Linked DNA regions of Homo sapiens. The protein of the gene in region 2 purifies or fractionates together with the protein of the main gene of each other region. This does not show direct contact. Each region holds a gene or a part of one and is shown on either strand. Other genes may lie near its edges.

Evidence for each region.
Region 1: the proteins of ZKSCAN1 (region 2) and GRHL1 purify together in Homo sapiens (co-immunoprecipitation; one large-scale study listed by IntAct). This does not show direct contact.

The regions. Positions count from the first base shown.
Region 1 is NC_000002.12:9,961,683-9,965,502, reverse strand, and holds part of GRHL1 (grainyhead-like protein 1 homolog), read right to left. Parts: intron 3,049-3,820; coding exon 2,972-3,048; intron 1,618-2,971; coding exon 1,461-1,617; intron 1,269-1,460; coding exon 1,157-1,268; intron 217-1,156; coding exon 122-216; intron 1-121. UniProt on the Homo sapiens protein: Transcription factor involved in epithelial development. Binds directly to the consensus DNA sequence 5'-AACCGGTT-3'.
Region 2 is NC_000007.14:100,021,878-100,025,697, forward strand, and holds part of ZKSCAN1 (zinc finger protein with KRAB and SCAN domains 1), read left to right. Parts: intron 1-1,017; exon of another isoform or gene 1,018-1,177; intron 1,178-1,541; 5' UTR 1,542-1,629; coding exon 1,630-2,055; intron 2,056-2,276; coding exon 2,277-2,430; intron 2,431-3,820. UniProt on the Homo sapiens protein: May be involved in transcriptional regulation.

The DNA.
Region 1 (3,820 bases), on a different chromosome or scaffold from region 2:
CATAACACCTGAGAATGAAACACATAAAACTGTGAAAAAAAAAAAAATCAGTTGTCAAATCATTAAACTCCTCCCATTTCTCAAATGGCTGGACATAAGGCGCCCAGACCTCACCACCCACCTTTGCTTCATCGTTGATGTCCCATGTGAAGGAAATGGCGTTATACGCAATCTCCTCGATGTTACTGATAGTGTTGAAGCTTTCTTTATAGTCAGCTACAGGAAGCGGTGGAAGAGAAAATGAAAACTCATGAGTCTTAGTTTCAACATGGGATCCCAGCAGTTCAAAATAAGATCTAGTTTTTAGCATTATCACCTCTGGACAATTTAAATTAACATTTTGTTCGATTAGAAGAAGTTCAAAATACGAAGAAAAAGAATCACAGAGTTTTTGTAATAGAGGCAAGCTTAGACATATTTAATTCAATCTCATTATGTCACAATTAGGAAATTTAAGTCTAAAAAGTTTAAATAACAGTCCCAAGGTCACAAAACTACTCTGTAGAACCAAGATTAGAACTGAGTTCTCATTCTCCTGAAAAGGAAACAAGAGCATTACAAAAGGTAAAGAAAAAAAGTAACACTAATATTAAACAGCCATCTGTGATACAGACAATGGTTTTACATGAAAATTACATACATGGCAAGAACAGAGGTCTGTGTAACGCTACTTCAGTAAATACAGATTTGCACAGGTTTGCCACTACAGCCCACAGAGAGGTTAGTTACACGGTTTAGCACGTGACTAGGGAAGACTGTTAGGCAACTGCACAGCAGCAATATCTTTCTTTTACTTGTTTTTTTCTCTACCTCCATCATCTCCAAATAATAATCAGAATCTTTTAAAGAAGATATTACCCCTTAAAGCAATTGCAGACTGAACAGTGGGGACATTCTCAGGTTAGCCAGCTACATGGCTTCTGGCCCTAGTGTCCTGTGGAAAGCCACCACGTGGGCACATGTCCCATTACTGCATGGGAGCAATGGTGAGAGCACTGGTTCCAGGAGGCCGAGGACAGTGTTTGGAACAGATCAGTAGCTGGCATAAAAATTCAAATGCTTTCGGCAGGAAGCTGATCACTGCCAAAAATAATTGGATTTAGAAAACTGGATGGCTGCACCTCTGGGAATAAAAGCGGGCTCTTGAGCTGCTTACCTATGTCAATGCATCTTTGTTTAGCGGTGTGCTGCCGGGAGTGCCAGTACTTCCAATGCCTTAACTGATCTTCTCTGCTTTTGTCTTCAGCAAAAACCACCATGATCACACTCTGTGAAAGAGAATGCATTACAACATAAAGACACTAAAGGGTGAGTATGTTTTGGAAAACGTATTTAGTACTATATTTTACAGTGAAGGCTTAAAGCTGCAATTTCAGGCGGTCATTCAGAGCTGCTTCAGACCTGGAAATGTTAGGCTCTGACTAGCTTTCCTAGAGAACAGGACTAAGAGCAGAACTTACTCGAACTTTGCTGATGGGATGATGGATTCCTTCACTGCTGCTCACCTCCTTCAAGGTGATGGGATAGAACTGGCCTTTGTTCAGGTACGTCATGGTACTGTCTCCTGGCTTCTGTCGAAGTGATTTTGAAGCTTCTAGGGTATATTCAAAGTTGTTCCTAAAGGACAAAAAAAGTCACAGGTCTCTAAATCTACTCTCGTGGAAGCTTGCTATACATCATATTATAAATAGCATTTGCTATCTTTTTCACTTAAAGAAAATCTGAAACAAAAGTACTCAGCAGCTAAAAATTCTCAAGTCTCTCAGAGGTGGAAGTACAAATTGCCGATTAAAAATTCTATGATGTGATGGATGTCAGTAATCGGACATCCTGAGTTTGAGGGCTCGAGATATTAAAGATACTGATAGGTGGAAAGGACTTTGGAAGGAACTTCTCACAAGACATGCTGCCAATCTGATATTTATCCAGCAGAGGTTTCAGACAGGTGGCTGGTGTTCCTCTGACTAAATTCCTTTTGGCCTATATAGCATTTTTTTGTTGTTCCTACTTGTAATTTAAATGTCTTTAATAGGCAGGCACTCCACAATTCTCGACATTACCTATTACCTAACACTACCACTCATATATGCCCCTAAAGTTGTTTAAGAACCTTCCCAGGCCACGGCTCAGCAGATTACACCTATTTTTGTAACTAAAGTTTTATTAGCACATAGCCACATCATTTGTTTACACATTACCTATGGCTGCTTTTGCACAATGGCAGACCGGGGTAGTTGCAAAAATATACAGAGGTTGTATGGCCCACAAAGCCTGAAATATTTACTCTCTGAGTCTTTACAGAAAAAGTTAGCTGACCCCTATCCTAAACCCTAAAGGTATTTCCATTTGGGACTCCTGCATCTTGAGGCAGATCTATAAGGGAAGTCTCAATTCCCATAAAATCTTAGACACTTTTAAAACTGTAAAATATAACACATGTAAAAAACACATAAAACAAAATATGAGTTCCTAATTAACTTGGAAAATATTCATACTCCCAGAGTGAGATACAATTTTGTGAGGTCAAAAGAAAGTTGTCAGCTCAGAAAAAAGTTGACTTCATTTATTTTATCATTAGTGAGGCTGATTTTAAAAAAAAAAAGCTTTTATCACTTGATATTACTCCTAAATTCTCACCTAATTATATATATTTGGCAACAGAAAGGACCTCAGAGACCTAATTTAATCCCCTCATCTCTCCTATTAGATTCCATTCTACTACCATCACATAAAGAATCCAAAAGAAAGAAAAAGCACCAACACCAAGAATTAAGGAAACTTGAAACATAGTTCAAAGAGTTCAAAATTAAAAGCACTGAAGCAGATGTCCTCTACCCAAGACTGTACCACAGTAAAAGTAGTAAGATAAGGGGAAAGCCTGCTAAAGCCACCTTTGATTTATCAAGTTAACAAGAAAGGAATAAGTTATAAAAGCTGCAAATTAAAAATCAAATTAAAAGACATCTATTACCCAGAAACACTGTCAAAAACATAGTCCTCTGAATTCATGCCAGGCATCCGCAGACTGAGATCCGAGGGGAAGAAAACCTGAAATATCAATGTGATAAGCCACAACTATTTAACTGGTTATCATGCTTACTAAAGACCAAGCTCTGGTACCGCATAAAAGTATGTGGCTTACAGCAACCCACTATCCTTTCCATATTTATTTTTGAGTAAAAATTTTGATTCTACAAATACTTAAAAAATTAAAACAGAGAAAATATCCACTTTTATATGCCACTCAAGTAAATTACAACAAGCTGTGTAGGTACTCCCACTAAGTGCTTCTGACTCACGACCCCCTTTTCTGTCTTTCACACACATCCCAACTCTGTTCAAACACTAGGACCTGCAACCAAAATTTCATGACTTTTAAAAGTCACCCTATCATTATACCAAGTTAAGACACAGCATCAAGTTCACACCACAGCTGAAGAGATGTGGTGCATTTTCTCAGGAAAGGCTAACATTCTGCCCCTAACTCCATACGCAGAGATGGATGCTCTTTACCCCACCAAGTCACTAAGTATGGTTTCTAACACCTTTAGTCCCTAACTTTTAGCTGAGTGAGGTATTCATCACCATAAAACCCCCAGAACTATTTGGAATTAATTTGTAAACCTCACACAATGCATTTGTGCTCTCCCTGACTACATTACCAACCAAGAAACACCAAGCAAAGATATAATAACTCATTTTATATGAGCTCCAGGGAGCTTGTTTGGCACTGGGAGAAGTGCTGAAAACAGACTAGGAGAATCTACCTGTGGTCAACAGAAGATTATGTATGGGGTTCTCTTTCTCCAGCAAATCCCTT
Region 2 (3,820 bases):
GTGACTGCAGACACAGTCCCCATGCCCAGCTAATTTTTTTCTTTTTCATAGGGACAGGGTCTTGCTATGTTGCCCAGGCTGGTCTCAAACTTCTGGCTTCAAGCATCCTCCTGCCTCATCCTCCCAAAGGGCTGGAATTATAGGCATGAGCTACCATATCTGGCCACAAGAATCTTTAAAGCTGCTTGTCTCTTTTATGACAGAGTCTCGCTCTGTGGCCAGGATGGAGTGCAGTGGCGCGATCTCGGCTCACTGCAACCTCCGCCTCCTGGGTTCAAGTGATTCTCCTTCCTCAGCCTCCCAAGTAGCTGGGACTACAGGTGCCCGCCACCGCGCCCAGCTAATTTTTCTATTTTTAGTAGAGACAGGGTTTCACCATGTTGACCAGGATGGTCCCGATCTCCTGACCTCGTGATCCGCACGCCTTGGCCTCCCAAAGTTTTGGGATTATAGGCATGAGCCACTGCGCCCAGCCAAAGCTAGATTTAGAAATCCATTATTTCACATAACTGGTCTCAGATAAACCAGTCTACATCACAATGTCTAAAATGAACAACACCTGTGACAGGTCAGCACAGACTAAGTAAGTGTATTAGTGTCAATTTATAGCTTAATTTCTCTCTCTTTTAAGATACAGACATTCCAATTATTTTCTTTCTGTATCCTTTGCGGATCATCTTGTACTTTGGAAACCACAATTTAACTGCCCAAGTCACTCATAAAAATAGCAAAAGTAGCTGGATGGTACAAAAGTAGGTCCCAGGGCTTCAAATTTGGTTGAATATTGACTCCAGTAGGCAGCCACCTACTACTGAGCAAACCTAACCCTCAGTTATGTCATTTGTAAAACAGCACTTAACAGTTTGGCCGACCTGCTAGGGCTGTTGTAGGGACAAAAGAAGATGGTGCGTGTACTGCTTTAAGCCTGGCACCTGGCACTCTGCTAACATTCAGCTCTCTGGGCTGGGCACTGTTAATGCTCCATTTCGTAACCTGCTGTCAACCTGCAGGTAAATCACTCTGACTCCAAGCAAACACCCTGAGGGTGGAGTCGGCCTGTTTGAGGTTTCTGTTTGCAAATCTTGATATATGAAGTGACAGTGGAGATTGTACAGTTTTTTCCTCGATTTGTCAGGATTTTTTTTTTTTTGACGGAGTTTAACTTCTTGTCTCCCAGGTAGGAAGTGCAGTGGCGTAATCTCGGCTCACTACAACCTCCACCTCCTGGGTTCAAGCGTTTCTCCTGCCTCAGCTTTCCGAGTAGCTGGGATTACAGGCGCCTGCCACCATGCCCTGCTGACTTTTGTATTTTTAGTAGAGACGGGGTTTCACCATGTTGGCCAGGCTGGTCTTGAACTCCTGACCGCAGGCGATTGGCCTGCCTCGGCCTCCCAAAGTGCTGAGATTACAGGCGTGAGCCACCACCCCCGGCCTCAGGAGCGTTCTGATAGTGCCTCGATGTGCTGCCTCCTATAAAGTGTTAGCAGCACAGATCACTTTTTGTAAAGGTACGTACTAATGACTTTTTTTTTATACTTCAGGAATAGTAAAGAAACACATCATAAAACCTCCCAGGACATAAAGGTGAGCACAGACCCTGTTTGGATCAAGTCAGTTCCTGGAGCCTGAATGATGACTGCTGAATCACGGGAAGCCACGGGTCTGTCCCCACAGGCTGCACAGGAGAAGGATGGTATCGTAATAGTGAAGGTGGAAGAGGAAGATGAGGAAGACCACATGTGGGGGCAGGATTCCACCCTACAGGACACGCCTCCTCCAGACCCAGAGATATTCCGCCAACGCTTCAGGCGCTTCTGTTACCAGAACACTTTTGGGCCCCGAGAGGCTCTCAGTCGGCTGAAGGAACTTTGTCATCAGTGGCTGCGGCCAGAAATAAACACCAAGGAACAGATCCTGGAGCTTCTGGTGCTAGAGCAGTTTCTTTCCATCCTGCCCAAGGAGCTCCAGGTCTGGCTGCAGGAATACCGCCCCGATAGTGGAGAGGAGGCCGTGACCCTTCTAGAAGACTTGGAGCTTGATTTATCAGGACAACAGGTAAAAAGAGGTGAAACCTATTATGTGTGAGCAGGGCACAGACGTTGAAACTGGAGCCAGGAGAAGTATTGGCAGGCTTTAGGTTATTAGGTGGTTACTCTGTCTTAAAAATGTTCTGGCTTTCTTCCTGCATCCACTGGCATACTCATGGTCTGTTTTTAAATATTTTAATTCCCATTTACAAAGTGATTTACCCACAAGCCCAACCTGTCTGTCTTCAGGTCCCAGGTCAAGTTCATGGACCTGAGATGCTCGCAAGGGGGATGGTGCCTCTGGATCCAGTTCAGGAGTCCTCGAGCTTTGACCTTCATCACGAGGCCACCCAGTCCCACTTCAAACATTCGTCTCGGAAACCCCGCCTCTTACAGTCACGAGGTAAGAAGCAAGGTTTCATTTAGGGGAAGGGAAATGATTCAGGACGAGAGTCTTTGTGCTGCTGAGTGCCTGTGATGAAGAAGCATGTTAGTCCTGGGCAACGTAGCGAGACCCCATCTCTACAAAAAATAGAAAAATTAGCCAGGTATAGTGGCGCACACCTGTGATTCCAGCTACGCAGGAGGCTGAGGTGGGAGGATTGCTTGAGCCCAGGAGGTTGAGGCTGCAGTGAGCTGTAATCATGCCACTACTCCAACCTGGGCAACACAGCAAGGACCCTGTCTCAAAAGCTACTTACAGAAAAGAATTAGGCTCGGCACGGTAGCTCACACCTGTAATCCCAGCACTTTGGGAGGCTGAGGCGGGCAGATCACTTGAGGTCAGGAGTTTGAGACCAGCCTGGCCAACATGGTGAAACCTTGTCTCTACTAAAAATATGAAAATTAGCCAGGCATGGTGGCACATTCCTGTAATCCCAGCTACTCGGGAGGCTGAGGCAGGAGAATCACTTGAACCCAGGAGGTGGAGGTTGCAGTAAGCCGAGATCGTACCACTGTGCTCTAGCCTTGGTGACAGAGCGAGACTGTCTTAAAAAAAAAAAAAAAAAAAAAAGAATTAATTAAAAATTTAAAAAAAAATGAAAAAAAGCTGCATGCTTGTTTTTTGTTTTTAGTTATTCTACATTGTTGTCATTATTACCAAATATTGGGGAAAATACAACTTACAGACCAATCTCAGGAGTTAAATGTTACTACGAAGGCAAATGAACTATGCGTAATGAACCTGGTAGGCATTATTTATTGAATTATCAGCATTCCAGATGTCCAGCACATTTTTAATAGGAAAGTATTGGGAACAGATGTCATTATTTTCAGCCTAGGTTTTAAAACATTTTAGTATGTCATGAATTATCTTCAAAAGGATCATAAATCTTTTTTAAAGGTCCATTTTATTTAAAATATATAAAAATAATCACTGCACTGCAGCCTGGGTGACAGAGAGTCTGTTTCCAAAAAAAAAAAAAAAAACTATAGCATCAGTCTTTTCTAGGTTATTTTCAGAAATTTCAAACAATGGGAAAAGAATGGAAGAACTTTTGAGGGGAGTTGAGGAACACGAAAAAAGATCAGTTCACAGTCATATAAATAAAAAGTCATGTTACTTGTTTTTTCTCTTTTGACGGAAATATGTAATACATTTATCCAGTTTTAAAATCAAAGTATGTGCTTAGAATGTAAAGACAAGGAATGCTAAAAGTACATTTATCACTTAATGGCAGGGATAAGTTATGGTAAGTGCAATGTTAAGTGATTTTGTTGTGCGAACATCATAAAGTATACTTATACAAACCTAGATGGTCTAGCCTTCTCCACACCTACGCTACAAAGCT